Regions from separate parts of the Homo sapiens genome. Here regions 1, 2, 3, 4, 5 and 6 are each reported to be linked to region 7. The links are microRNA targets in miRTarBase. Many come from high-throughput screens and were not tested one by one. Region 7 holds a microRNA gene; each other region holds the end of a gene's coding sequence.
What was found. The annotated mature microRNA hsa-miR-3681-3p reads ACACAGUGCUUCAUCCACUACU and lies in region 7 at 1,897-1,918, opposite strand. An mRNA with a match to its seed (bases 2 to 7 or 8) in the 3' UTR can be bound and repressed. Matches are read on the target gene's strand: a 7mer-m8 pairs with bases 2 to 8, a 7mer-A1 pairs with bases 2 to 7 and ends in A, and an 8mer does both.

Region 1 (4,067 bases), not on the chromosome of region 7:
CAACTGAATTTTGTGCCCAACTTGGCATCATAGACATCAATGTTAGGCTTCAGAAGTCCAAGGAAGAACATCATGTGTGTGGTGAATATGAAGAACAGGATGATGTGGAGAGTAATGACTCTGGAGAAGACCAGAGTGAATATAATACAGACACATCTGCTCTGTCTTCTATTAATCCAGATGAAATAATGTTAGATGAAGAAGAAGATGAAGATAGTATTGTAAGTGCACATAGTGGCATGAATACACCATCGGTAGAACCTTCTGATCAAGCTTCTGAGTTTTCTGCAAGTTTCTCTGATGTCAGGATCTTGCCAGGCTCTATGATTGTATCTTCTGATGATACGGTGGATTCCACAATTGATAGAGAGGGGAAACCTGGTGGGACTGTGGAGTCAGGGAATGGAGAGGACTTAACCAAGGTGCCATTGAAGAGGCTGAGTGATGAACATGAACCTGAACAAAGAAAGAAAATTAAGAGGAGGAATCAAGCCATTTACGCTGCAGTGGATGATGATGATGACGATGCAGCTTAAGATGATTTACTTGTTTTGTTTTTGTGTTTGTTTTGTTTTTTTGAGATGGAGTTTCACTCTTGTCACCTAGACTGGAGTGCAATGGCGTGATCTCGGCTCACCGCAACCTCCGCCTCCCAGGTTCAAGCAATTCTCCTGCCTCAGCCTCCCAAGTAGGTGGGACTACAGGTGCCCGCCACCACACCCGGCTAATTTTTGCATTTTTAGTAATGACAGGGTTTCACCGTGTTGGCCAGGCTGGTCTCCAACTCCTGACCTCAGGCGATCCACCTGTCTTGGCCTTCTAAAGTGCTGGGATTACAGGCGTGAGCCACTGTGCCTGGCCGACAATTTACTTGTCTTAGTATTATATGTAGATATGTGATTTTTTGAGACTGTATTTTTAGAGCTGAATTTTTGACTAAAGACTTAACTTTATAATAATGAAGATACATTAGAGAATTTTAGTTAGATATTGACTTTATCTTTAGGCTTTTGTATGTTTCAGATGCAAACATATTAAAGTTTCATATATTTACTTGACTGGGTATCTTTTTTTTTGAAGACATACATTATTCACTTCCATTTTTACAATAAACACTTACTTAACATCTACTCTGTGCCAAGCACTCTGCTATAATATGGGACCATAAAGATGAGTAAGACAAGGATTTTTGCCTCCAAGGACTTGTTATCACTGTAAACATTTTGATGTATACAATATGGCTATATTATATTTTGTTTTATAAAATCAAGTCATTGTATATATTATGATGTATGCTTTCTTTTCATTTATTATAAATATTTTTCCTGATCAGCTTTTAATATCTGTCAAATAAAAATTGAAATTGAAGATGGTATATAAGATTTCAGGAAATAAACTACTCTGAATACTAAACATTGGTAAACGTACAATCTTAATTTGCTGAGATTAGTATAACCCTGCTGACTTTTGCATATTGAGTTTTTTTTGTTTTTTTTTTTTGAGATGCAATCTCACTCTGTCGTTCAGGAGTGCAGTGGGGAGATATCGGCTCACTACAAGCTCCGCCTCCTGGGTTCACGCCATTCTCCTGCCTCAGCCTCCTGAGTAGCTGGGACTACAGGCTCCCGCAACCATGCCTGGCTAATTGTTTGTATTTTGTTTAGTAGAGACGGGGTTTCACCGTGTTAGCCAGGATGGTCTCTATCTCCTGACCTCGTGATCTGCCCGCCTCGGCCTCCCAAAGTGCTGGGATTACAGGCGTGAGCCACTGTGCCCGGCCAGCATATTGTGTTTTAACTTTAGCTTTAATTTTCATGTAACTATAGTAACTATGTAGGTCATTTTTGGCATAGTTCACCCCATAGTTTTAATTACTAGCAAGGATCAAGCTGCACAAATAACTGCCCCTCATGCTGCGTGATGGATTGCTAAATTAAAGTATTTTTGAAGATCCATATAGAAAAACTACACCTCTGTGCTATCTCTGGTTAAAATACCTGGGCCACCTGAAGAGATTGTCACTCCGTACTTCATATCAGAAGTCGTGGAATCCAAGATTGTTCCAGGATCTCATCATCCCATGGCAGTCTAAATCCAGGAGTTAATCTAGGAGAATAATAATGTAGCACTTGGCTTCTACCTTGTCAACATTTGACTTAATAACGGTCTAGGATTTGGGGGATTTTATTTTTATTTCCTTCCATTTTTTGGTTTACTTTCTTTTTTGAGTTGAATAATTCACTCATTTTACTTTTTTTTTTTTTTTTTTTTTTTTTTGAGACAAAGTCTCACTCTGTCACCCAGGTGGGAGTGCAGTGGCACAATCTTGGCTCATTACTGCAACCTCCACCTCCCAGGTTCAAGGCAATTCTGGTATTTCAAGGTGAATCTCATGCCTCAGCCTCCCAAGTAGCTGGGACTACAGGCGCCTGCCACCATGTCCAGCTAATTTTTTTTTTTTTCAGGCAGAGTTTTGCTCTTGTTGCCCAGGCTGGAGTGCAATGGCATCATCTCAGCTCACCACAACTTCCGCCTCCCGGGTTCAAGCAATTCTCCTGCCTTAGCCTCCCGAGTAGGTGGGATTACAGGCATGTGCCACCACGTCTGGCTAATTTTTTGTATTTTTAGTAGAGATGTGGTTTCTCCATGTTGGTCAGGCTGGTCTCGAACTCCTGACCTGAGGTGATCCGCCCACCTCGGCCTCCCAAAGTGCTGGGATTAAAGGCTTGAGCCACCACACCCGGCCTAATTTTTGTATTTTTAGTTGAAATAGGGTTTTGCCATGTTGGCCAGGCTGGTCTCGAACTCCTGGCTTCAGGTGATCCACCTGCCTTGGCCTCCCAAAGTGCTGGGACCACAGCCATGAACCACCTCGCCTGGCCCACTTATTTAATTTAATTAATTTATTTATTTGAGATAGTCTCATTCTGTCACTCAGGCTGGAGTGCAGTGGCATGATCTCGGCTCACTGCAACCTCCGCCTCCTGAGTTCAAGCGATTCTCCTGCCTCAGCCTCCCAAGTAGCTGGGACTACAGGCCCATGCCACCACACCCGGCTAATTTGTGTATTTTTAGTAGAGACAGGGTTTCACCATGTTGGCCAGGATGGTCTCAATCTCTTGACCTCGTGATCCGCCCACCTCGGCCTCTCAAAGTGCTGGGATTACAAGCGTGAGCCACGGTCCCGGCTTGCTTTATTTATTTATTTATTTATTTTATTTTTATTTTTTTTGAGATGGAGTTTTGCTCTGTTGCCCAGGCTGGAGTGCAGTGGCGTGATCTCAGCTCACTGCAAGCTCCGCCTCCCGGGTTCACGCCATTCTCCTGCCTCAGCCTCCCGAGTAGCTGGAACTACAGGCACCCACCACCATGCCCGGCTAATTTTTTTGTACTTTTAGTAGAGACGGGGTTTCACCGTGTTAGCCAGGATGGTCTCGATCTCCTGACCTCGTGATCCGCCTGCCTCGGCCTTCCAAAGTGCTGGGATTACAGGCATGAGCCACTGCGCCCCGCCCTTATTTATTTATTTTTGAGACAGAGTCTCGCTCTGTCCCCCAGGCTGGAGTGCAGTGGTGCGATCTCAGTTCACTTCAACCTCTGCCCCCTGGCTTCAAGCGATTCTCCTGCCTCAGCCTCCTGAATAGCTGGAACTACAGGTGTCCGCCACCATGACCAGCTAATTTTTGAATTTTTAGTAGAAATAGGGTTTCATCATGTTGGCCAGGCTGGTCTCAAAACTCCTGGCTTCAAACGATCCACCCGCTTTGGCCTCTCAAAGTGCTGGGATTACAGGCCTGAGCCACCACGCCCAGCCCGGCCCACTTATTTTTATTCTCATTATTTACATAAAGTATTTAAAGCTATGACCAGGCACAATGGCTCATGCCTGTAATCCCAACATTTTGAGAGGCTGAGACAAGAGGATTGCTTGAGCTCAGGAGTTCGAGACCAGCCTGGGCTGAAGTGAGACCTCGTCTCTACAAATTAATAAAAAAAAATTAGCTGGGTGTGGTTTCACATGCCTGTGGTCCCAGATACTTGAGCAGCTGAGAAGGGAGGATTGCTTG
Region 2 (4,057 bases), not on the chromosome of region 7:
TGGACCGTCACTTCTGTTTGCTTTCATGGGCTGGAGCTCCATGCATGGCCACAGCTAACCACAAGGGAGCCAGGAAACTGGCTATTTATCCAGGAAGCAGAGGAGATACTGAACAGCTTGCAGGTCTCTGCCACAATGTCTATTGATAACGTATGTCAGATGTCACAGAAGAAAATATGGTAGTTCTTAATGAGAATGCCATAGATTATTCTTAAAATTCATAGATGTATACAAATGTTAACAATCTTAATGGTATTTTAGGGATGCGGAAAAGGCAAATTTGTATCCATAAGTATGGTGTCATTTTTTTGTCTTTTAGGAATATGTGTTTTTAACCTTATTTTAAATTATTTTAATTTGTAGGGCCCTTTAAAAGGACGCAGAGTTGAAGGAATTCAATATGAAGACATTTCTAAACTTGCCTGAGTTTGAAAATTTGTTAACAATACATTAAAATCTTAAAGCATCAAATTGGTGTTCGCCAAGGCATTATGAGACTCTACTGTGTTAGGGTATATTCTTTTGTATAAAACAAACAGGTTTTTGAAAATATTACTGTATAGTTGTTCAGCTAAACTTTGAGAAGAATTTAATTATGTCTCATGAGGTATCAAACTATGTAATTTTGTCCTTGTTATTTTTGTTTCCTTTGTAATTTACTTGATGAGTTTATATCTTCATTAAAGAATGTTATTATAAAGTGTTTTATCTATGACAATTTAGAATCATGTAATTGGAGGAAATCCTTCATACACTCTATATTTTCAGTAGTAGAGTAGTAAAGTTGAACTCTAAGTGTGACTAAATTTTAAATGTCAAACTATAAATATAGAAGCAGCTTTATTGTGGTAATAATTCATATACCATACAGTTCACTCATTTAAAATATACATACAATTCAGTGGTTTTTAGTATTTTTGCAGAATTGTGCAGCCATCACCACTGTCTGATTTTAAAACACTTTCATACCCCAAAATGAAACCCTTTAATAGTCAATCGCTATTTTTCCCCTCTGCCCTAGCCCTAGACAGCCACTAATGTACTTTCTGTCTCTATGGATTTGCCCTTTCTGGACATTTCTTATAAATGGAATCATATAATATGTGATCTTTTATGACTGGCTTCTTACACTTAGCATCATGTTTTCAAGGTTTATCCATGCAGTAGCATGTAGGCGTGCTTCATTTGTTTTTATGGCTGCTTAATATTCCACTGTATGGATGTACCGTATTTTGTTTGTCCATTCATCAGCTGATAAACATTTAGATTGTTTCTACTTTTTGGCTATTGTGAATAATGCTGCCATGATCACCCATTTACAGGATTTTATGTGAACAGAAGCTTTCGCTTCTGCCAAACTCTTCCAGAGCAGCTATACCATTTTACAGTCCTACCAGCAATGTTGAACTATAGTTTTATTTGTTTTTAATTTTTTTACTTTTAGAGACATGGTCTCACTGTGTTGCCCAGGCTGCTGTCAAACTCCTGGGCTCAAGTGATCCTCCTGCCTCAGCCTCCCAAAGTGCTAGGATTGCAGGTGTGAGCCACAGCACCCTGCCTAACCATACAGTTTGAAATAAGTAGGGCAGTGTATTATTAGGGAATGCAAAAGACAGGAAACCCACATTTGCCTGTGCCAAAGGAAAAACGAAGGGATATTTGTAGTGCACATGACTGAAAGGAGCAGACGCTAGCTTCCAGGGCAGCGGGACCGGGTGTGAACAGCCTTCCCTGGGCTTCCGCTCTGTCTCTGGCTCCTGTGCTGGCTCTCTACATTTACATTCTTGAGCACTCTAGGTTTACATCTTACCCTTCAGCAGCACCGGGAAGAGAGAGATGATCTATCTTTTCTTTTTCTTTTTTTTTTTTTTTCTGACACAGAGTCTCACTCTGTCACCCAGGCTGATTGCAGTAGTGCAATCTCGGCTCACTGCAACCTCCACCTCCCGGGTTCAAGCCATTCTCCTGCCTCAGCCTCCTGAGTAGCTGGGACTACAGGCATGCGCCACCACGCCCAGCTAATTTTTGTAATTTTAGAAGAGATGAGGTTTCACCATGTTGGCCAGGATGGTCTCGATCTCTTGACCTTATGATCTGCCCGCCTCAGCCTCCCAAAGTGCTGGGATTACAGGCATGAGCCACTACGCCTCTTTTTTTTTGTTCTGTTTTTTGAGATAGGGTCTTGCTCTGTCATCCAGCCTGGAGTGCAGTGGCACAATCATGGCTCACTGCAGCCTCGTCCTCCTGGGCTTAGGTCATTGATTCTCCCACCTCAGCCTCCCGAGTAGCTGGGACTACAGGCATGCACTACCATGCCTGGCTAATTTTTTTGATTTTTAGTAGAGATGAGGTCTTGCTATGTTGCCCAGGCTGGTCTCAAACTCTTGAGCTCAAGCAATCCTCCTGCCTCGGCCTTCTAAAATGTTGTGATTACAGGTGTGAGCTACCACGCCTTGCCTGAGTTGATCTTCTACAAGAGTTCAAACAAAAAACAGACCATACCAGGATGATCACTTCAAACATGAGGATGGGTATAAGCTGACGTCAGACACAGGTATGGTGCCAAACCCTGGGATCTCTCTCTTTAACTGAGAGTCAGGGAGGGCTGATTGCTTCTATTCTCAGAAGATGGGAGAACGTATGCTGTTAGCAGAAATGTAAGAGGCAGTAAAGAAATACTAATAGGATGATGGCAGAAGCTTTACAGAAAATGTTCCTCAGGGATGAATTAAGGTTTTTCCAAAGTAACCTGACAGCACATTATGGAAAGCAACTGGGTTTTGGGTGTGGGCAGTCTTTAGATCAAATTCTGGCAGTTCTGTTCATTGGCTTTGTAATATTAGAATGTTAATGTTCTTGAATTGCAATGTTTTTAATGTATAAATTGTCAAAATGTTTTTCAGCAGGGTTGATGGGAGACCTACAGAAAATACATATAAATCATCAGACATGAAGTCCAGCACATAGTAGGTATTGAATAAATGGCAGTGAGTGGTCATGTCCAGAAATGAAGCCAAGAAGTTGAGCCTGGACTACTAAGAATCTGGTCTGAAGAATTTCAAAAAGGAGAATGGTTCTCCCTGATAACAAATAGTGATGAGTAAAACCAGACAAATTACATATGCCTCCCCCAAGTATGTACGTTTGGAATCAACTTGGTGGTTTTCTTCAGAGAAAAAATGTTTCATGTCTGCCTCCCACATTTAATTCTCCAACGTCTTTCTGAAATTATTTCAGAATGAAATGAGGCAGCATACTTGAGGTTAAATTCAATAAAAAATATCTGAAGCATAAAAATACGATTATAGACTTCACAGTAGTTTTTTCCCTCTGAGTCTGTAGAACTTGATAGAGTTTATGCTAAGCAAAATGACTGCAGATAACTAACAACAGGTCTCATATTAGACTTTGATTTTTGAAGTATCATAAGCTATTTTTCTTTATTTCAAACATAGACTTTACTTTTTAGAGCAGTCTCTGTGGGTTTTGACAAATGTATAATGACATGCATCTGCCACTGTAGTATCACACAGAACAGTTTCACTGCCCTAGAAGTTTCCTGTGTTCTGTCTGTTCCCTGTCTCCCCCCAAATCCCTGCTGACCGCTGATCTTTTTACTGTCTCCCTAGTTTTGTCTCCATCGAAGGTCATATAGTTGGAGTCACACAGGGTGTAGCTTTTTCAGATTGGCTTCTTTCACCTGGTAGAACATATGCATGTAAGGTTCCTCCATGTTGTTTTGGTTAGGTTTTTGTGGCTCGATAGCGCACTTCATTTTAGCACTGCATATTCTATTGTCTGAATGCACCACAGTTTATGCACTCACCTACTGAAGGATATCTTGGTTGCTTACAAGGTTTGGAAATTATGAGTAAAGCTGCTACAAACATCTGTGCGCAGGTTTTTTGTGGATAGACGTTTTCAACTTATTTACGTAACGACCAAAGAGCACAATTGCTGGATCATATGCCAGGAGTCTTCTGAGAAACTACCAACCTGTCTTCCAGAGTGACTGTACCATTTTGTATTCAAACGAGCAGTGAATGAGAGTTCCTGC
Region 3 (4,067 bases), not on the chromosome of region 7:
CGACAGAGAGAGTAACAAACAAAAACAACCAAAGGGGCGGATCGTATACATTGACGACATTTCCCAAGACTAAACAAGAAAAAGCGCCAGATACGTAATTGTATGCAGGATGCCATCCTGTCTACCTTAACACAACGTCACGCCCACGAATGGTTCTGAAACGCACAGGAAAAGTTCTGGGAAGGGCGCTGCTGTGGGGTGGGGCTGGGAGATGGGGTGGCTGCGGGAGACCCGCTTCGTTCTTTCCGGTTAGGCATCTTAAACGCTGCTGATGGGAACGGTCTCACGAGGTTCCAGCAGCCTGAACACTACAACGAAGGCGGCGCGGGCGCTGCACCCGCCAGGCCCTCCCTACCTGCTGCGGACGTCCTTGCTGCGGATGGGCGCCAGGAGGCTGAAGGAGGATTTGGCCGAGCGAAGGGAACAGTCGTCGCAGGCCAGGGGGCTCCGCGGCCGGCCGGGGCCCAGGCTGCTGTGGGCCCGCACCAGGAGCGGCTGCGCGCGGAGCTTGTAGTCTGCAAGATCCGAGTCGACCTTGTTTGCTGTCCTCAGGGAGTCGGAGGCGATGTCCAGGCTCAGGGCAGGCGGTGGGCGCGGGGGCAGCAGGCTGGGCAGCCTGGGCGAGCTCCCCGCCACGGCGGCGTCTCTGTGCGGGAGGTTCGGGGAGCTGCTGGCCACCCCAGAGAGAGGGTTACCCCCCGAGGACGGGCTCCCTCTCTCACTGCTCAGGACCCCGCGGGACTTGGGGATTTCCTGCAAGGAGGTGCTCAGGCAGGGCGGGGAGCAGCTGTGGGCGGGGGCCCCGGGGCCCTCGCTCTGCACTGAGCCCCTGGAGGGACTGGTCCCATTCCGGGCTTCCAGGTCCTCCTGGCTGCCTCGAAAACGCCTCCTCCTCCAGCCCTTGTCGTCCAGGGACAGGGCTCGCTCCAGTCGAGGCCTGGCGGGGGGCCGCGGGGCGATGGGTGCTGCTCGGGCTGGCGGGTCCTCGCCGCTGGGCGTGGCCGGAGTGCTGCAGGCAAGCGCGGGGCTCTCGGAGCCCGGAGCATCGGGTGGGGACCCCGCGCGCTGGGCCGGCGGAGCGCCGGGAAGCTGTCCTTGGAGCGTCCTCCCTTCCGGCGGCTGCGGGGCCGGCTCGGAGGGCCGCAGATTCTCCGCCTTGGACGGCATGGACGGTCTCTCCCGGGGCAGGCCTCGGCGCGAGGCCGCAGGCAGCGCGAGGGGTCACGGGTGCCGGGTCCGGGGTCGCCGGCGCAGCGAGGAGCAGAAACGCCGCTGCGGCTCCCGCTTGGGCCGGGGATGGTCGCGGAGGGGCGGGGGCGGCTGCCGCATGGCCCGGGCCCCGAGTCCCGCCAGCCCCTCGGGGCTCCCAGACGCCGTTCCCAGGGCGGTCCGCAGGCAAGGCCTGGGGGAACAGGCGGCTGGGCGCCTGTCGCGGGGGAGGTTCGACCCCGACGGGGACGCCGCTCGGGGAGAGGGGTGGGAAGCGGGCACCCCTGGCTGGGCTCGCAGACTCCGAAGTCGACCCGGTACTCGCGGAGGCCCGGCCGCCCAGAAGCGGAGTCAGCCCGGCCGGGACCCAGCAACCGCCGCCGCGGGGCCGCGCCCGGTCCCCGCCCCGCGCCCCGGCCCCGCCCACAGCGGCCCCTGGCGGCCGGAGGACTGCGCCGCACCGGACCCGGACGGGTCTCCCACGCCCCTCCCAACCCGGCAGCCCCGCAGTCCGGCAGGTCCCAGCGAGGCAGGTGCAGGTCCCCGGAGAGGACCTGGGTGCGGTCCAGGACAGCGCCGAGGCCTGCGGACACCTGCACTCACTCGCTTCCAGCAAACCAAAGGGAACCACAGGTGAAGGTGCTTGAAGGAGCGCAAAATATTTTATTCAACAATTTGCAATGTAACAATTCTCATTTAGGAAAAATAGCCGCTCCCGCCTGGAGGAAGCTTCTTGAATCAAAAGTCGTGGCAGTCGACCCCAGAACAGCGGGCAGAGCCGACCGGAAGAGGTCCCAGGATTCACACGAGCTGACCGAGGGACAGAGAGGGCTGCCCCGTCACAGGGACTGGCCTTTCTCCAAGTGACAAGGACAAATGGATCCAGCGGGACACGCCTGTGGAACATTTTGGAAAACATCCTGGGTGGTCTGGGCTAAATGATCAAGTGAAACAGAAAGCCAGGAAGGATCTGTGCTAATTCCACATTCTACAATTTCTACACTTAAATTTAAAACACCAAACAGTTTGTATTCCTCCAGCAGAACCTACAGAAATTATCTACTGATTTTTATTAGTATTTAAATCTTTTCTTCAGTCTCTTTAGACTTGACAAGAATACGAAGAGTTTCAGAACAGTCAGAGAAGCCTTAAAGCTTTGCATCAGTGAGAGGAGGCCCGTCTCTGAGTTGAACAGGGTTGAGTCCACCAGGAGCTACTCAAAGTCTCAGTGTGGCAAAACTCGGGGCAGAAATACTAAGTTCCAGAGCTGCTGTCAAGAAACTGTGTTAAGATACTCTCCCCAAGTGCTACCAACCTCTGAACCAACGTCCCCCAGGGGAGAAAGTGGGTCATGTGGATTGTACCACGAAAAGTGCTCACGGAAAGTGCAGCCTTTTAGAGAAGTGCATCCAGCTTCCTTAACAGTGAGTCTAACCGTGCTCCTACACACGAAATGAAGCCCAAATCAAACATCACACGGTCAGTTTTCAACCTGGATGACCACCCTGAGCCATCATGTCAGACAGCCGGCTCTCTGGGGCTCCTTCCCAGTGACTGGGCCACACGGTGGGCAGTCCCCAGCGCTTTGGGTACACAAAATCACCCATGGTCCTCATCAGGCCACAGAAAGTAAAGTGAGGCTGGAAGCGTCTTTGCAACAGGAAAGAAATTCACTGCAGTAACTAAGGCCTCTCTCAAAAACCGTGAACTAATGCCGAAGGAACCCCACGGCTCCTCGGAGGCGCTGATTGAGAACACAGCGCCCTCCACTCATTCAGCCAGGTTCAAACACGGCGAGGGCCCAGATGGTGCAGAGCAGGGGTTGGGGTCTGCCTCAGTCACCCTCTCTTTGCTCCCAGCACCTTAAAGGAAGCGCGGGACTCACTGGGCAGTGACTCACAGCTGGGCTTGGAGAGGCCCTGGTTACTACCGACCATGTGGCTCTCCTGTGGCAGAGACAGCTCCGGCTTCAATGAATGAACATTCTTAAATGACCAGGAATACTATATCCTTAAATCATCCTAAATGACTAAGAAAGTCACATCATTCTTTTCGGCAAACAATTCTGAGTCAAAGATTCAGTCTTTCCATCCAGAATCTGAAAGGATGGTGGAATTAATTTTCAAAATAATTCATTACGATGGGCGGTGAGGAGGGAGGCACAGTGTGCGACCAGCTCTGAGTCACTGCTGTGTCTCCCTGGGGGCGGGACGGAGATCGCGGAGGTCGGTCGGGTTCTTCGGGGAGAACAGCAGCGTCAGGGCTCCAAGTGCAAGTTCACAGCAGGGCAAGCCTAGTTCAGCACCAGGTGCTTCCTCTGGCCAATCCTCCCTAGCCTTGAGCTCCCGGAGGTGGCGCAGGCCTGGAATGAAATCAACAGCATGACCTCTGCATGCCTGCCCCCAGGGTGAGCAGTGCTCGGCTGCAGCGTGGCAGGGGCTGGTCCACATAATGAACCACACGGGCCATTGGCGCTGACAAGCTGAAGGCTTCGTTTTTGTTTCCAAAAGCCTCTGGAAACCGACAAGTCAGTGCCAAGTCCTGGGCTCCCTTGAAAGCACTGTATCCTTAACCATCAATGTTTACTGTGAGGGTGGCCAGGAGGTGCCGTGGTTTCATCAGGGCCATGAGACCTGGAGCTGCTCTGCAGAGCCAGCCTGGCTGTCCAGAGTCCAGGGACAAGTGGTGGCCAGGCCTGGCCTACTGCATGGGACGCGGGGACCTCAGTTGCAGACAGCTGGCCAATGCAGGCATCCACTCTTGCTCCCTCGCAAAGCCTCATGGAGGGGAAAGCCAAGGAATTTTTGTAAAGGCACTAACCACATGGTAAAGGGAGCAGGACAATACCAAAATCGACT
Region 4 (4,067 bases), not on the chromosome of region 7:
AACTTGTAGATGAAGAAACTGAGGACATATAGGTAGAACAATTTCCTCTAAGTTATGCCAGAGGCAATACCAGGCACATATAGAAATGAAATTCGTATAAAATTCCAAGTCTGAGTTGTTTCCTTTTCTTAATTTGGTGGTTGTCACTCCTCATGTTTGAAAATGTATCACTCTCAGAAACTTATTTAATGTCTTTCTCAGATCACTGCTAATAAATTACGTCAGCTCTTCTTCATAAAAGAAATCTCTATATACAATGTTGTATTTTTTTAACACTAAAAGGCAAGCCAGGTTATGGTTTTAAGAAGTACCAATTTAATAATGAATACTTAGAAATATGGTACACAGATACCATAGTAATATAAAATGCATACAATTTTAAATTATTTTCTTATAAACTCTCTACATGAATGGCTGGCGGCTTCCAACAGATAAACTTTTGGACAAAGGTACAAGATATTTTTGGGCATTCATTTTAAATACCATCTAGTTATCCAATTAGGAGGTTTCTAAAAAAATAAATATGACAAATATATGGATTTCTGAAGTATAAACTGACATACAAATCTATATATTTTCTTAATACTTTTCATTAAAGCATCTTTAAAGCATTCTGTAACATGAAGTTGAGAGTTCAAATTAGATGTAATGAAAAGGCATGAGGTTTTATTAGAACTGTGTAATTCACATATCAAATTTTTACATAAAAGTAAACAAACACAAAATTGAAAAGCAAAATACGTTATTTTACTCTCCAAGTTACCAATTTCAGAAAACTACTCACTGGAAAAATTAATATTCCCAATTCTGAATGTTAATAAGAAAACATGTAGGTGCAATTCCAGAAACTTAATTCTACCTTCTAAGAAGCAGTGAAGGAGTAAGGTAACACTGCCCCTTGGGGATTGTCAAAGCTTTTCTAGAACTGCTGGAGAGCTGATTCTCTTTTGAGACAGTGAGAATTAAAACTATCCATTCACCAGCATACAAACCTGTGATAAGCTCTCTTTTCCAAACTTCCATATGATCAGAACTCTGAACCATAGGTTAGTGAACTGACCTTAAATGTGCCCACCTCCTCCATCTCACTGAACAGGCAGCTCCAGAGGAAAAAAAAAAAAATCCATTATGTTTTCTCACCTGAACAGTTTGAATGAAATATCTATTTTGAAGTTATAGAGAAGAAATAATAATCTTACACAAGGGCTAGTTTGATGGAACTTAAACTCTTAAATTTCATGTAATAAATGCTAGTTATTAGAAGAATATGTTCTTTAGTGGAATTTAAACCATCAAAACTTAACTGGGTACATTACTAGTTTTAAAAGTTAACATGGGAGAAATAAAAGCATTTTCCTGCACTAATTTAGAGCAGTGGTCTTCAACTCTGACTACAAATTAGAATCACTCAAAGAGCTTTTGGAAAAACAAGCATGGCTCCATCTTCCAGAAATTTAGACTTAATTGTTATGAGGTGGATTCCATATTAAAAGTCCTCAGATGATTCTAATATGAAGTGAGGGTTGAAAACCACTGATTTAAAACAATTATTAAATTATTAATGACTTATGGTGGTCTTGATTTAAATAAATTATTTAAAATTCAAATACATGAGCACTTTTTATGTAATAGGCACAGTTCTAATAATAAGGTAATTTTTTAATAAAAATCATTGGATAACATTGATACATTTTTATCATTTGAATTATATAAATTTATTAAAATATTACTCAAACTTCTATTATAGTCTGCTGTCACAAAAGATTTCCTATTAACTTTTCTGAACTACCCTCCACTTGATACTATGGCAAAAGAGAGATCACACTCAGAAACTTTTCCTTAAGAAAGATACATGGAGAGAGCCTAAGAATTTTAAGAATTCATTTTCAAGTCACAGTACATGAGGTATTCTCCATCTTTTATCTGGAGTCACAAGCCATAACCTAAGAACTGAAATTAGGCATTGTTTTTGGATGCTTAACAGAATCTCCTAGATCAAGACCAACTCCCACTGGTATCAGTGCTTGCTTTAAACTACCTAAAAAAAAAAAAAAAAAAAAAAAAATCTATGGCAGATCCTTAGGGAACCTAGTAAGAGTGGGTCTTCTAATGCAGACCTTGTATCTTATGACCTATTTATAAAACAATTCTTAAAAAAAATACAGGATATGGTTTTTGAAACATATATAATTAGAAATTAGTTATCTCAAAGGAACTAAAAAATATATAGTTTTGAAATACTATATAATTAGAAATTACTATCCCAGGATGATAGCCAGAGCTTTCATATTTTAAATTAGAACCAACTTTTTAAGGTATTATAAAGCTCATTTAAAATGTACTTTAATTCAAGAAAAAAAATCAGGTATAAATTAGTAAGTTTAATTTGTAACTACTTTTTAACCTATTTTTCAGGTTTAAATTTGCCCAAACCAACTGAAAAATTTATTAATACTATAGTAGGCTAATTATCTTTTATATCCAGACATTAGGCCAAAAATGATACAATTCTGGTTAATCCATAATATATGCATATATAGGAAAATGCAATAGTAATTTGTTTTCCATACTTGATGATTAAAATAGCTTCAAATATTTTATGAAAGCTTAGTCAAAATAAATATTTAATAAAAAGATATACCATAACAAAATATCAAGAAGTTAGTGTTTGAAAATAAACTGTCACGTTGTTTTGCTTTCAGTCAAACAGAACTGAATTCAGTGGCTTAAGGTATCTAAGAATAATTCAATTGTGACTTTGGAAACAAAAAAATTAAAATCCAGGTTAAGACTACAGAGCTAACACAAAGATGAAAGAGAAGTTTACTACGTTATAACTCAAAAGTTTAGAGTTATTGGGACTTCTCAATGACTACGATCTAAGAAACATGAATAATTTGGGGAGTAAAAGTAAAAAAAAAAAATCATGATTATGTGATTCATGTTGTGACACTCTCAATAAGTAAAACTAAACAACAAAAAATACAGTATATATGAGCACCATTAAAAATGTGTGTATGTAGCTATACATGTGTCAAACTTTACCTGATTAAAAATTACATTTAAAGTTAAAAACAAGTATACAATTATGAAAATACATTCTCAAGCTAACATGTCATGACTTATTTTAAAATGTTTCATCAAGCATTCCTTCTAAAACTCAACTAAGGAATACAACATAAAAAAAGCCAGCATTCTTTTGTAGTGTAAATCCCTTGATTAAACAGAATTACTTAAGTGTTTTCAATTCATAGTTAGATTCTAAGAGGTGCAAGAAAAATGAAGTAGGCAAATAAATGGGAATTAACAGAATAAACCAGCACATGTTGGATTTGTCCTCAAGGGATTATCATTCAGGCCTCAAAATTATTTTTAATTGAGAGCAGTAAAGATTACATTGCCAGAAACACCTTCTTTCTATAATAAAAGTTGTAAATTTGTCACTTCCGCTGTAATATTTCTGCTATATTCACCCACACTCTGAAAACAGCGATACATAATATACATCCTGGGATAATACAGGTCTTTAATGAAAATCTTATTTTGATCCTACTTCAAGGCAGCTCATGATTGACCATTAGGAACCCTTGAACTTTTTTTCAAAGCTCCCAGTAAAAGCAATCACATGATACGGATTGATGTTCTTTGATACCATTGTCACGATAAATATTAATGTTATTCACCATTTAAAATACGTTCAATCTCTTCTAGTCTTTTTAAAGCAGCAACTCTTTTCTTCTCAATTTCTTTGATGTCTTTTGTTGTTTTGTGGGGTGTCTCTTCGTCTCCATTTTTTCCTAATTGTTTGTTGGATTTAGACTGACTTTTATTATCACTTGTTTTTACTATTTGTGTTTGTCTGGATTCACCTCTAATTTCTTTTACACTTTCAGTTGGAATTTTCTTTCCTTCCACACTTGAAATCTTACTGGTTGGGAATATTGGCTCTATAAAACTAGATGAGGAAATCTTATCCCTGACTATATTCAAATGGCGCTGAATATATTCTTCATGTGGTGCTAATGCCAGTGTTTCAAGAAGGCATCTTTCAGCTTTTAATAAGTCTT
Region 5 (4,067 bases), not on the chromosome of region 7:
GAGAGTTGCCTCCCCACTCTGAGCCCGTGTCCTCAGTAGTAAAATGGGCAGCATAAGGCCCTCCTCACAGGATTCTGGCATCAAGTGAGATCTTCAGTGTAAATGACCATGTATAAACTGTAAAGTGCAATAGAAAACTGTGTGTGTGAGGAAAGTAAGGCCTAGAGGGGGTGATGTGTGGCACATGACAGGGATTTTGATCCCACAGCTGCAGCACGGGGACAGGCCGCTTCCCCACATCCGCTCATGCCACTGTAAGCAGCCCTAGCTCTTGGGTCCAGGACCTCACCAGGTCCTCGTCAGACTCCTGTGCTCTTCCAGGGGCTGCTCAGCCCCACCTGAAGAGCCCAGAGAGGCTGTCTTCCTACCCAGCAGGTCTCATGCAGGCCCAGGGCTGGGGATGCAGGCAAGAGGAGGGAGATGGCCGCCCTGTCCCTCTCCCTAGCTGGCGGCTCTATTCTGAGCAGTTCTTGCTGCCCGTTTGCTCTCAGGGGAAAGGCTCACGCCCCCCATCTTAGCCCCAGGGGGGTAAGTGGGTGCTGGTGATGGGATGGTGTGGCGCTCCTGCCGTGGGTGTTGCCAGGAGGCTCTTTGGGAAGGAGTGTCGCCCGGTCAGGTGGTGCGCTCCCGGTCACTAGGGGTGTACACGTGAAGTTGGGTGAACACCTGCTGCTCATGGTACCCAGTGATTCTTGCCCGAGTGGGCAGCTGAGCAGAGGCCCCTCTGGGTCTTGCAGTCCAAAGAACCGCAGAGTAGCCCAAGGGCTGTGGGTCCATTTTGAGTGGCAGCCAAGTCTGGGAGCCCGTGTGCATCATGTTTGGGTCAGGTTGGCGTGGCCACCACTGAAATAAGCAATAAGTACGGGCTCCTGGTACCTGCGGATCTCCTGCAAACAGGCCCAGAGAACAGCCTTGAAGCCACCTTTCCCCTCAAGGGGACTGACCCTGTCTTTAATGCTGCAGTGGCATCCAGGGATCAGTGGAACATTGCTTTGAGAACCCTCCTGCTGTTACGGAGGCAGCACAAAGCTGGTGACCCCTGAGCCAACACGGCACTGGGATGGCTTTCTAGGACAGAACCCTGTCGGCGACTGTCACATCTCAAACTAATAGCTGATTTTAAAAGCCAGCAGCAGCGACGCCATGTACCTGAGTACAGGTGGCAGTTGCAGAGCCGTGGGCTGTAGAAGGTCAGATGGGGCTTCCCACAGGGGAAATCTGGGCATGCTGTAGCTCAGGGTGACTCCCAGCTCCGTCACTAGCAGGGCGACCCCCTTCCTTCTGGAGCCTTAGCTCTGAAAGCCCCCAGTGGGGGTGCCCTTTCAGATGCCCCCTTTCCATTTCAAAGGCTCTGACTCTTGATCTTGAAGCCGGACGCGGCACTGGCACTCGGCTTCAGTTTCCACTGTGACAGATGGAGGTCTCCTTTCGCCCCAGCCCAGGTGGCCAAGCCCATCCTGGCCTCAGAACATGCTGAGCACATTTTGTAGGGTGGCACCTTTTTATCCAAGTTACTAGCTACACATCAGTGTTTAAAGAGAAAAAAGTGACCTTTCATTTTTTTTTTCTTGAAACTTGAGGAAACAAGATACATACTACTGATTTTTTTTTTTTCTTAAAACTAAATGCATGACTGCAGAGCGGTAGAGGTGTATATTTTTCATACTGTGGGGCAAAGTATTTGTGCTGCTTTTTGGAGATGGACTGGAACGTCTGGTTTCTGTCCCCGGGCCCGGCAGCTACGTCTATTTTCTGTAGAAGGTGCCACAGTGAGACCTGGAGCCACCCCTTCCTGCCCTGGCGCCGTTTAGAGCTGGGAGCCCGTGGACTCCCGGCCTGTTTCTACCTTCTATTCAACCACTCTGACGTGGGGAGACAAGAAGAAATAGAACTTTTTGATAGTGTGGTAAAAACATTGATTTGAACTATTTTAGTAAAAGGAGTAACAAACAAGATTGTGATAGTGTCTACTTTGAGCTAGATAAATAAAGGCCTCTTTGTGAGCCTCCTGGCTGGGTGCTCAGTGCTTGTTTCTGTCGTGGGTGGCAGGGTCAGCAGGCAGAGACAGGGCCAAGGCCCCTCAAGCACCGCAGATGGGGGCTCAGTCGGGGCCCCTTCCACAGACAGAGCCGTGGCCCCTCAAGGTGGACAGTGAGGCCGCTGCTCCTCCAGCTGCCTCTGTCTCATCACAGGCCAGAAGTGGAAAGGGTTTCAAATCCAAGCCCCCGGGTTCCTGTGTGCGTTCTACGCAGCAAGGCTTCAAAGTTTCAAACTGGTTTGGAACTCAACCAGGTCCTCCAAAGGAAACCAAGGCAGGCACAGGATGGGGGCAGGCTGGCTTGGCAGGCAGCTGTGCGGATCCACCCAGAGTGCCTTGGGAGGCAGTGGGGTTGGCTGTGGCTGCTGTGAGCTGCAGCCAGGCCTCTCCCGCGTCCCCAGGGTCTGGAAGGAGGGCCTCTGCACATTTTATAAGCCACAGACTGCGAAGGCCTGGAGCCCCACCTTCCACCCATAACAAAGAAAGGGATAGTTTCAGAACTGCTTTTATTTGGATAACTGACTGAAGGAGTCTCATTTGTAACCAAGATGGAATTCACAGTATGTTGTTACATTCACACTTAAAAAATATATCTCTATGTACAGGAATTTGCAAAGAGATGTAAACATACATTAATTTCCAAGTACATTTCTCCCCTTCTCCCTGGAGGAAAAAAAAAAAGCCATCCAATGAGGCAACCCCTTCAAAATAATTTTAATACAAAGGATGCAAACATCTATAAATGAAAAATGTGGTTCTTCTGCCCCTTCTGGGTGTCATGGGAGAGAATGTCACCGAATGAAAATGACAACAGCTTGGCTTCAGATGGAATTGGACTATTTAAAATTGAGTTTCCAGGAAAAATAGGCACTGATTTCTAGAAGGAAATTAACTCCTTACCGAAGCTATTTATTGAGCCAATATGGCTGGTTAACGTCCTCACTAGTATAAAGTAACCCAGTGCAGGACTCTCAGACATTAGCTGAACCAAGTGTACACAGTCAGACTGCAAGGGCACTGATGAGGCTACTCTGAAAGCTGGTTGTCCCCGTCCTCTAGGTGTGAGGACCACTCTGATTTTATCCCAGGGGCCCGGTCCATTCTTCCCATACTGCAACTGTCGTGCATTATACAAGGTACCCTGCTGCTTACCCACTTCAACTACTCTGCAAGTCGATTAGAAAATCTTGTTAAAAAAACAAAGAGGGAAAAAAGGCTCACGTTATCTCATCCAGGCTGCCCGCCCCAGCCCCCCAACTGGAGGCATGCCGGGTGGGGGAATGGGCGGGGGCACAGGAGGCTGTCCTCCAGGGGGGACGGCAGGAGGTGGGTAGCTGGCTGGCGGCAGGCCCAACCCTGGAGGAGGATGAGGGGGGACTGCGTGGGTAGGCGGGAGGCGTGGGGGTGGGGGTGGGAAGTTGGGGTTGTAGGTGGGTGGGGGTGGGGGGTAGCCAGGAGTAGGGGGTGGGATGGCAGGTGGGGGGAAGGAGGCTGGGGGAGGAGGCACAGGTGGCGGGGGCGGGTTGGGCGGGTAGACATGGGGGTGGTAGGGCAGGTGTGCAGGTGGGCCGTAGGCGGGGGGCAGGGCACCGTAGGAGGGTCCCTCGGTCTTCATCATGGACTGCAGGCTCTGGTAGCCCTCTCCAGACATGTAGGAGCTGGTGGTGGACATCCCGGTCATGTAGCTGGAGGGGGGTGGGGGCGGGGGCCGGTGTGGCAGCGGCGGTGGCTGGTGCACAGGGGCCGGGTGGGCCGGAGGGGGAATCTGGACTTTGGGGAGGTCAGTGGCATCCACAGGGCCCGGCGGCTCAGCCTCACCTAAGGCAGCAGCGAGGGGAGGCTTCCGGTCTGCAGGAGAGAGACGCATCAGTGCCCGGCCTCCGCCAGCAATGGTTGCTTTTTCAGTGCCTCCTGGCCCTTCAGGGCCATCTTTACAGAGGAGCAGGGAGCAGCTGCCCGCCTCCTCTGTGGCCCAACGCATGGGCCCATGCCCCATGTCCTGATGCCACCAGATGTCTCCCCACCATCT
Region 6 (4,067 bases), not on the chromosome of region 7:
TTTTGCTTCCAAAAATATGTTTCCATGTGGTCGTGGTGTTGTCCAGTGCTATTAGGGCCAAAGCACCAAAGACATGAGAAGTTTAACCATCGACTTGTCATTTTTCATAAAAACTAAACATTTCCTTATAGGTCTGGAGTAAAATCTTCTAGGCATTTTAGTGCTAAAAGTCACTTTAAATTAAATGTGAAATAAAAGCTACAAAAAGTATGAGTTCTTTCAATACAAAAAGTTGTGTAGCTGAAGTTGTGGGCTCCTTTGACATACATAAGCAGTTTCAATAAAATATTTGCTCAGGTAAGAAAATAGAAATTTGTCTGCTTTCATTTAGCATACGTTCCAGTCGATGTCCTGCTTATCCCTGCCAGAACTTCTGAAGAACATTAGAATCGATATTTCTTTCCTTCAAAGAGCATCCGTAATTCACAGTACAAAACAGTTCTACAGTCTTATTCCTAAGGAGAAACAAAAATTATTAAATATGTTTATTTTTTCTAAAGTGTCAAATGTAGCCACTGCCAGGGCATTAAAAACTCACTTATCCACAACACTGCCGTCTTCAGGAAAGAACCAAGAGTTGATTCATTCCCCTTTCCTGGAGCTGTTACTAGTTGGTTGTTGCTTTAAGTGTAATAACCCTAAGAAAATTCCCAATAAAAATCACTGTTCTTAAGTGTCACATATTTCACACCTCTGGTACCCTGTAGAAACGCTTGTATTACATGGGAAAGCAGCATCTGAAAAGATCTATTTCCTATTCTAGTTCATTTCCAAGCCCTGTTATTGAAAACCTCTTCTCTAGAAGAGAGAGTCACTGCTCTCTCTTAACACAGTCGCTGCTATACTTCAGCGTGACTGACCATACATCATTTTCCATTCTGGGACAGAGGAAGAAGACGGGTGGGGGAGTTGATCTGGCTAGCCCAGAGCTGGACAGTGCCATTCTATTCTTCCCTCCCACTTGTCTACACGGTGGTTATTACTACTTGCTCTGCTGCCCAGGCTGGAGTGCAGTGGTGCGATCTCGGCTCACTGCAACCTCTGCTTCCCAGCTTCAAGCAATTCTTCTGCCTCAGGCTCCCAAGTAGCAGGCATTACAGGCGCCTGCCACCACGCCCAGCTAATTTTCTGTATTTGTGGTAGAGACAGGGTTTCGCCATGTTGGCCAGGCTGGTCTCGAACTCCTAACTTCAGGTGATCTACCTGCCTCAGCCTCCCAAAGTGCTGGGATTACAGGCATGAGCCACTGTGCCCGGCCTACCTTCTATTTTCACTACTGTGTTAAGCATGAAAGAAAATCCAACTGGGTTAGATACAGCAGGTTCTCCTAAATGTCTTAACCCATGTTTATCTTGTTCTGCTATTCCATGAGCAAAGAGAATAAACACAAAGCTGTGAGAGTATTAAATATGGACACTAGATTTACATTTCCAACAAGAAATTCATCTCCCTCCAAAGTCCCAGACCAGGGCTAGAATGTGGTTCATTTTTAACAATCAAAGTGGCAAGATCTGTTTGGTGATCACTGTAAAAACAGGAAACATAGCTAATGCCCTTTCATGTTGAGGTGCTACAAAGGTCCAAGCTTTTAAAGACTATGGCCTCAACGTCCATGTGTGAAACAAGTGTATTAGAAAATTCTTTAAGTCTTGTTGCCTTAACTTAGAGATCTCCAGGCAACAGGCCTGACGATAGCCATGGCTGTACCACTTAACTATGATTCTATTCCAACTGTTCAGAATCATATCACAAAATGACTTGTACACAGTAGTTTACAACGACTCCCAAGAGAGGAAAAAAAAAAAAAGACGCCTCAAAATTCACTCAACTTTTGAGACAGCAATGGCAATAGGCAGCAGAGAAGCTATGCTGCAACTGAGGGCACATATCATTGAAGATGTCACAGGAGTTTAAGAGACAGGCTGGAAAAAATCTCATACTAAGCAAACAGTAGTATCTCATACCAAGCAAAACCAAGTAGTATCTGCTCAGCCTGCCGCTAACAGATCTCACAATCACCAACTGTGCTTTAGGACTGTCACCAAAGTCAGATTCGGTGCTAACCAGGTGGCATCTATGATCAACGTCGCCCCTCTTATTTAACAAAGGGCTCTGAAGGAGGTGTTCTCCAAGCAACAAGGAGACTGCTTCAGTACAAGACTTTGCACCTTGAATTCAATTGCATCAAGTGTGGATAGCAAAATAAGTATCTTACCATTGAAATATGTGTTCAGCCTAAGATTTTACCCACCAGCAGAACAAAAGTGAGGGTGAGAGGGATGGGCCAGTGAGGGGATGGGGGAGAAAAAAAAATCACAGGATTACCACCAAAGCCTTGTTTTAAAAGGGCTCCCTTCACTATTCAGGAAGGGAAGTGGAAGGAGAAATTAACCAATTCCTGCCACAGCAGCCCTTTTTGGCTGCTTCCACAATAGATACTTTATGGAGTGGCACAGCCAACCCTATCTGTGACCTGCCCTGCGGATAAACACAGCCAAGCAGGTTTAATTAGATCAAAGACACAAAGGGCTATTCCCTCCTTTCATAACAACGCAGCTGTAAGTGCCTACAACAGCAGGGGAGAAACAAAGGCAGCAGAACAGAACCTTAATTGAAACCTTCCCCTGGCTGGCCCTTGACAATGATTTACTTGTAACCTAGGAAGGGGCGGGTGGAGCAGGAGGTAGCAGGAGCCTCAGCTAAGAGCCAGCTCCAGAAGGCTAATTACTTGGGGGTTGTGGAGGAGGGAGGTAGCAAAGTCTTTGTTTGTAGCCCGAGTTTGCTTAACTATTTGTTACACTTAATAGGAGGCTGCTGTGGTTTTGGTCTGCTGCTCCCGGACCTTGTCATGGATTCACCAGCCCTGCGCTCCAGGAATCCCATAAAATAAATCACCCCAGCCTCCTGGATCCCATACACAGCTCAGCTCCGCCAAAGCAGACAAGCAGCTTTCGTGCTGGTCCCGCAGTGGCGACTCCACAAACCCACTCTGGCCTTTCTACCAGGATTCTTCCAAGCCCAGGATAGGAAGCAACGGCAGGAATGGGTACTCCGAACTTTCCCCCAACCCCACGTGCTTAAGAATGGCCGATTATAAACCCAGATCTACCAAGGTTTAAGTGCCAGGCAAGTCCACAGTTTGCTCCACCGCGGAGAGGAAGACAGACAGGGGGCCAGAGGGAGACGCCCCCCACCCCCAACTAAAGTGTTTCCTACCTGCTCCCTCTGTCCCCTTCCTCCTCCCCCGTCCACAGCCGGCTGCGCATTTCACCAACTCTTTTCCAAAGGGCCCAGGAATCCCAGATGGGGCCCAGACAGTGGCAAAAGAGGGAGGAAGAGAGGGAGAAAGGGAGCAGCGGCTGCTACTGCAAACAGTTCCCCTTCGCAGCTCTGCGCTCAGCTCGCCCATCAGTGTGCCACTGCCTCTCCGTCCTCCTCCTCGGAGCTGGGCGCAGGGGGGCGCCCGGGAGGCGGCGTAGTCCGCGCCACGTTGCTGTCGCCCTCCTCCGGCTCCGCCGGGTGCAGGTGCGTGGCGAGCTCCTGCAGCACGGCCGCGCGCCCGATCTGGTCGTTGCGTCGCTTCTCCATGATCAGGTCCTCTAGACTCTGGAACTCGAGCGTGTGGCTGCGCTGCGCCGACAGCTGAATCTGCAGCCGGTAGGGCTGCTTGCCGATGCGCAGCTCGCCGCCGATCTTGAACTCGCGCTTGCCGTAGCGGCACCAGGCGGCGAAACTCTCCGAGTTGCGCCAGCTCAGCTCGCGCTCCTTGGCACCCACGTGCGCCAGCGCGTTGCGCACCACGGCGCTGGAGCTTAGCGGCTTGTAGCGGTACAGATCGTTGACCACGCGGCCGCGACGGCCCTGGCTGGCGTCAGTCAGGAAGCTGTTAATCACCTCCAGCCGGTGCAGGTGCACCACCTGGAAGTTACCCACATATACGGCCCAGTGCGGGTACTGAGCCTGCGACACGAACTCCACCAGATCGCCCGGCTTGCACTTGTTGAGCAGGTTCTCGGGCGTGTAGGTACTCAGCGCCGCCGAGCCCGGCGCGAAGCTCTTCTGGTAGA
Region 7 (4,067 bases):
CAACTTCTGTATCCTAATCAGAAATTCTCTTGTGTTTTTTTTTTTTTTTTTCTTACAATAAATTTTCTAATCTGAACATGCTGAAAATTTGCCTTTATATTTCCTGGATGGAAATAGTGCACAATCCTTATGCCTCTTTGTGTAACCTCTAGACCCTTCTTGTCTTATCCACTATGAACCAAAGAGCTATTTCTGGGACCCTTTACTCATCCTTCTCTGTTCTCTCTGCTTGGAATTCCATTCCAGGTTCAACACAAATATATCTTTGACATGAAGAGATACCTAATCTTTGCCTTGCCCATTTTAAACCAATAGAATTAAAAATAAATTAATAAAATAAGTTATTCTATCATCAGATATATGTATATCTAGTCTCATAAAATTGTATGTGTGTTTTACAATATTTAGTCCCTGTTTTACTAAAAATATTTGTGGACCCAGCTTGCCTTCCTCATGTCACTAAAAATATATATATTGAGTACCCACTATTCCCCTAAAATATTTACCAAGCACCTTCTAAGAGGCCTTTTAGTAGATATCCAGTAAATATTTTTAAATGAATGAATGTTTAGCTACACCATCCAATACGGTAGCCACTAGCCACATTTAACTACTCAAATTTAAATTAACTGAAATCATATACAATAAAAAATTCATCTTGTACCCCCATTTCAAGTGCTCAGTAGTCACAAATGGCTAGCGACTACAGTATCAGAAAGTGCTGTTATGGGACCCTTCATCACAGCAGAAAGCTCTACTGGGCAGTTCTGAATTCAATACATGAATGAATAAATGCCTGAAAGAATGAATGAACAATCCATCAGGAGGCTCCCAAGCCACCCCCTCTGCAAACTCTCTGACTTCAAGGATGGATTAAACTACATAATATTAACATTTCACCTAATTTAGAGATCAGCTTCCACTTAGGGAAGTGTCACAGCTTGGATTATTTAAAAGGAGCTCAGGAAAGCAGTGAGCACATCCTGCAGGCATGGCTGCTGCTGTTCCACAGACCCATCAGCCACATTATGACAGGAGCGCTTTCCAGCTCCAATTTGTCTAATTCTCATCTGTTATATTAACAAAGAATGCCTGGCCAGAACATGTCACTCAGCTCCACAAAGAGCTATTTCCGTCTTCTGTCTTCTTCCAGAACTGCAAAGATTGATTTTAGGAAGATAATCATTTTTGTGTATTTCTGCACACAGGCTGGCTGCAGCTGTTCCCAAATGCAACATCAATACATGTTTTATGAGTCAGTTTTTTGTGGGGTTTTTTTGGTTTTTGTTTTTTTTTTTTTTTTTTTTTTTTTTGGTAACGTGTGAAGCTAATCATGTTGAGTACGACATAAAAAGCATTTGCCTTGAAATCTCAAGCGCTGTGTCCCATCACTCAATCTTGCTGTGAGCACAGATTTCCTTGAAATGTTTCTGGTCGGGACTGAATGTGTTGAATCTCAATTTTGTATTTCAGCTCCATTCTACGATACAGCAGGGTGAGAACGTGAGTAGCCTTCACAGTTGGGCTTCTGTCTTAGCCTGAGCCATTGAGACAAAAAAACCTAAGACTTTATTTGGGATGTGCAAACCCAGGAAAGAGAGGAAGAAGTGAAGTAAAGGCAAAGAAATCTGGGATGCCAGGTGAAGTGATGCATCACCTTGCTGCTCCTTCCCCACAAGCCTTGAAGTTACAACTGGCAGCCCTAGGCTTGTCCAGGAAAATTACAACGAATATCTCTGTCTTGGGGTAGCACATGGGAGAAACACAGGAGGGGGAATAACCCAGCTAGCTCCTTCCTATTTCCTGTTTCCATTGATCCATTTGCCACTTGGACAGTTAACACCCTCAGAATTCCAGGTTGCACTGGACTCCTGAACAGTAGCTCATGACACTTCCAGTAGTGGATGAAGCACTGTGTGCACAGTTGGCCCTGCACAGAGTGCATCATCCACTACTGGAAGTAGACAAGTGTCTCCTTGAAGATGGGCTTGGTGTGCAGGGCTTGTGAGCCAGGCAGGCTGGGGACTTCCAGCCATCTCGTGGACGTCCCATCAGAGGTTGTTGGTAAGCAGGTCTGGGAGGCAGGCTGTGCTTTAGAGGGAAGGAGACAGTCAGATAGTGAAGGGAACCCAAAGGGGCACAGGATTTCTTCATCCAGTACAGCTTCTCTGCTCGCATGCTTACAGGATTCATCTTCCGTGGCAGGAATTGTTATTTTTAAAAGGAAAATTATGTTCCTCTCCAGGCTCTTTAAAGTATGCTATCCTGATAGAAAAGGCCTTACAGGTAAGCAAATCCTAGTCCTCCAATGTTGCATGTATAAAAATTAATATTAAATAATTGGTGTATGATAGACTAGAGATGTTAAATACCTCGCTTACTAGAAGTAAGTGCCCCCTCCAGCCAACCAGGAAAAGGAGCTCAAATGTTCTAATGCTTCTGTTGCCTCTCTGTACAACAGATAAATCATGTTTATGCAGTGATTGGCGAAGGAAATGAGCATGCAGCAGTGACGCCTGATGCTGAAAGGTGTCACTGGGGTTGCTCCTAAGGAGTCTGAGAGCCTCCCAGGAGCTGGGGTCCACTCAAACCTGGAGGCTCTTCATGCAGCATGCTGAGAGCTCTAGATAATCTCCAGGTAGGTGAGGCCCAGGGAATGTGGGGAGAAGAAATAATGGAGAATCTCACTTTCTAGAACCTGGAGTCAGGTGCCTCAGATAACTCCGAGGGTCAGGAAGATGAAGCTCAGTGTGTGCAGGGAAAAGAGGCCTGCATTCAGATGGGGGAAGTGTAGGAGCATTGTGCATTGTGGGGACGGCACCAGGGGACCCCAAAAACTATAAGCTTCAGTAGTTTGAGGACAATTTAATGAAGGGCCAATGGTATCCATCATGTTAAAGAGGTAAGAGGAGCACTAAGGTTGTTTAACAGAACATGGATGTGATCACATTTGTTTTGTCATTCTAGTTGCTGTGTAGAAAATGGAACTGGAGAGGATTTTCTAGAAGGAAAGAAACAAGTTTACAGGGAGTTGCTATGGACCAAGTGCGGAGTAATAAGGGTCTTCATATTTGAGAAGCTCGTCTTACTCATCTGTAAAATCATATTAATATGTGCCTCAGAGTGAAATTAAAAAATTAATTATTCAATGTCTTTATAGTTCTCCATCCACAGTAGTTTTGTTGACCAGACTTAAGTTGGCGCCCATGATGTGCTCCTCCTGGAGTCATGCTGCTGTAGAACTCACACACTTGACTGTGGGTGGGACGTTCGACTTGCTTCTAACCAATGGAATACAGCGAAAGGAACAGATTTCACTTCCTTCACAATGTTGTATAAGATTGTAATGACTATCACACCGAAAAACTCTCTTTCCTCTTGGTTTTGAGAAAACAAGCTGTCATGTTGTGCACTGCCCTATGGACAGTTATGTGGCAAAAAATTGAGGACAACTGGCAAGAAACTGAGGCCCTCAGTTCAGCAGCCTGTAAGGATTTCAATGCTACTAGTAACCATCTAAGCCTATAAGTGTATCCTTCCCCAGTTGAGCCTCAGATGAGTACTCAGTTCTTACTGACACCTAGTTTGCAACCTTAAAAAGGGCCCAACTAACGCATGCCCAGACTCCTAATCCACAGAAACTCTGAGATAATAAATGTGTGTGGCTTCCAGCTTCCAGGTTTGTGGTAATACTGTCATGTAGCAGTAGATAGCAGTTTCCCCACAAACTTAGTTCCCTCACTTTGCACTACCTACCCTGTCACAGCACTGAAATGCTAAGTGTGAGCAATACTACTAAAACCATTCATTTCCTGCCTCTCTCTTTAAGTATACTGATATGGTTTGGCTGTATCCCCACCCAAATCTCATCTTGAATTGTAGCTCCCAAAATTCCCATGTGTCCTGGGAAGAACCCAGTGGGAGGTAATCAAATCCTGGGGGCAGGTCTTTTCTGTGCTGTTCTCAGGATAATGAATAAGCCTTATGAGATCTGATGTTCTTATAAAGCAAAGTTCCCCCCGTACAAGTTCTCTCTTTCCTGCCACCATGTAAGATGTGACTTGCTC

Region 1: the mRNA of DBR1 is a reported target of hsa-miR-3681-3p. Seed matches in the 3' UTR shown: 7mer-m8 at 848-854.
Region 2: miRTarBase lists KIN as a target of hsa-miR-3681-3p. Seed matches in the 3' UTR shown: 7mer-m8 at 1,456-1,462.
Region 3: miRTarBase lists SEC16A as a target of hsa-miR-3681-3p. Seed matches in the 3' UTR shown: 7mer-m8 at 3,370-3,376.
Region 4: the mRNA of TMTC3 is a reported target of hsa-miR-3681-3p. Seed matches in the 3' UTR shown: 7mer-A1 at 1,892-1,898.
Region 5: the mRNA of CCNK is a reported target of hsa-miR-3681-3p. Seed matches in the 3' UTR shown: 7mer-A1 at 2,594-2,600 and 7mer-m8 at 1,766-1,772.
Region 6: miRTarBase lists LRATD2 as a target of hsa-miR-3681-3p. Seed matches in the 3' UTR shown: 7mer-A1 at 424-430.

Annotation. Positions count from the first base shown.
Region 1 is chr3:138,158,358-138,162,424 of GRCh38, reverse strand. It overlaps DBR1 (debranching RNA lariats 1), which reads left to right. Exons shown (of 8, transcript NM_016216.4): 8 at 1-1,437. The coding sequence ends at 536. Among named protein-coding and RNA genes, the nearest start is that of DBR1, 15 kb to the left of the region's middle. RefSeq lists an enhancer at 1,475-1,976.
Region 2 is chr10:7,752,449-7,756,505 of GRCh38, reverse strand. KIN (Kin17 DNA and RNA binding protein) reads left to right here. Exons shown (of 13, transcript NM_012311.4): 13 at 364-4,057. The coding sequence ends at 426. Among named protein-coding and RNA genes, the nearest start is that of KIN, 34 kb to the left of the region's middle.
Region 3 is chr9:136,438,253-136,442,319 of GRCh38, forward strand. SEC16A (SEC16 homolog A, endoplasmic reticulum export factor) reads right to left here. Exons shown (of 32, transcript NM_014866.2): 32 at 1,853-3,571. The coding sequence ends at 3,503. It overlaps INPP5E (inositol polyphosphate-5-phosphatase E), which reads right to left and starts at 1,593. Exons shown (of 10, transcript NM_019892.6): 1 at 356-1,593. The coding sequence starts at 1,167. RefSeq lists enhancers at 1-430, 372-481, 431-1,065, 1,066-1,699 and silencers at 772-1,261, 1,322-1,501, 1,552-1,751.
Region 4 is chr12:88,195,258-88,199,324 of GRCh38, reverse strand. It overlaps TMTC3 (transmembrane O-mannosyltransferase targeting cadherins 3), which reads right to left. Exons shown (of 14, transcript NM_181783.4): 14 at 1-4,067. The coding sequence ends at 3,676. Among named protein-coding and RNA genes, the nearest start is that of TMTC3, 55 kb to the right of the region's middle.
Region 5 is chr14:99,509,976-99,514,042 of GRCh38, reverse strand. It overlaps CCNK (cyclin K), which reads right to left. Exons shown (of 11, transcript NM_001099402.2): 11 at 1,603-3,886. The coding sequence ends at 3,261. CCDC85C (coiled-coil domain containing 85C) reads left to right here. Exons shown (of 6, transcript NM_001144995.2): 6 at 1-4,067. Among named protein-coding and RNA genes, the nearest start is that of CCNK, 31 kb to the right of the region's middle. RefSeq lists enhancers at 737-1,737, 1,738-2,237, 2,238-2,739.
Region 6 is chr8:126,553,049-126,557,115 of GRCh38, forward strand. It overlaps LRATD2 (LRAT domain containing 2), which reads right to left. Exons shown (of 2, transcript NM_174911.5): 2 at 1-4,067. The coding sequence ends at 3,409. Among named protein-coding and RNA genes, the nearest start is that of LRATD2, 3.4 kb to the right of the region's middle. RefSeq lists a silencer at 3,375-3,494 and an enhancer at 3,705-3,854.
Region 7 is chr2:12,197,025-12,201,091 of GRCh38, reverse strand. MIR3681 (microRNA 3681) reads right to left here and starts at 1,962; the gene lies at 1,891-1,962. The region is part of intron 3 of MIR3681HG (MIR3681 host gene); the gene reads right to left.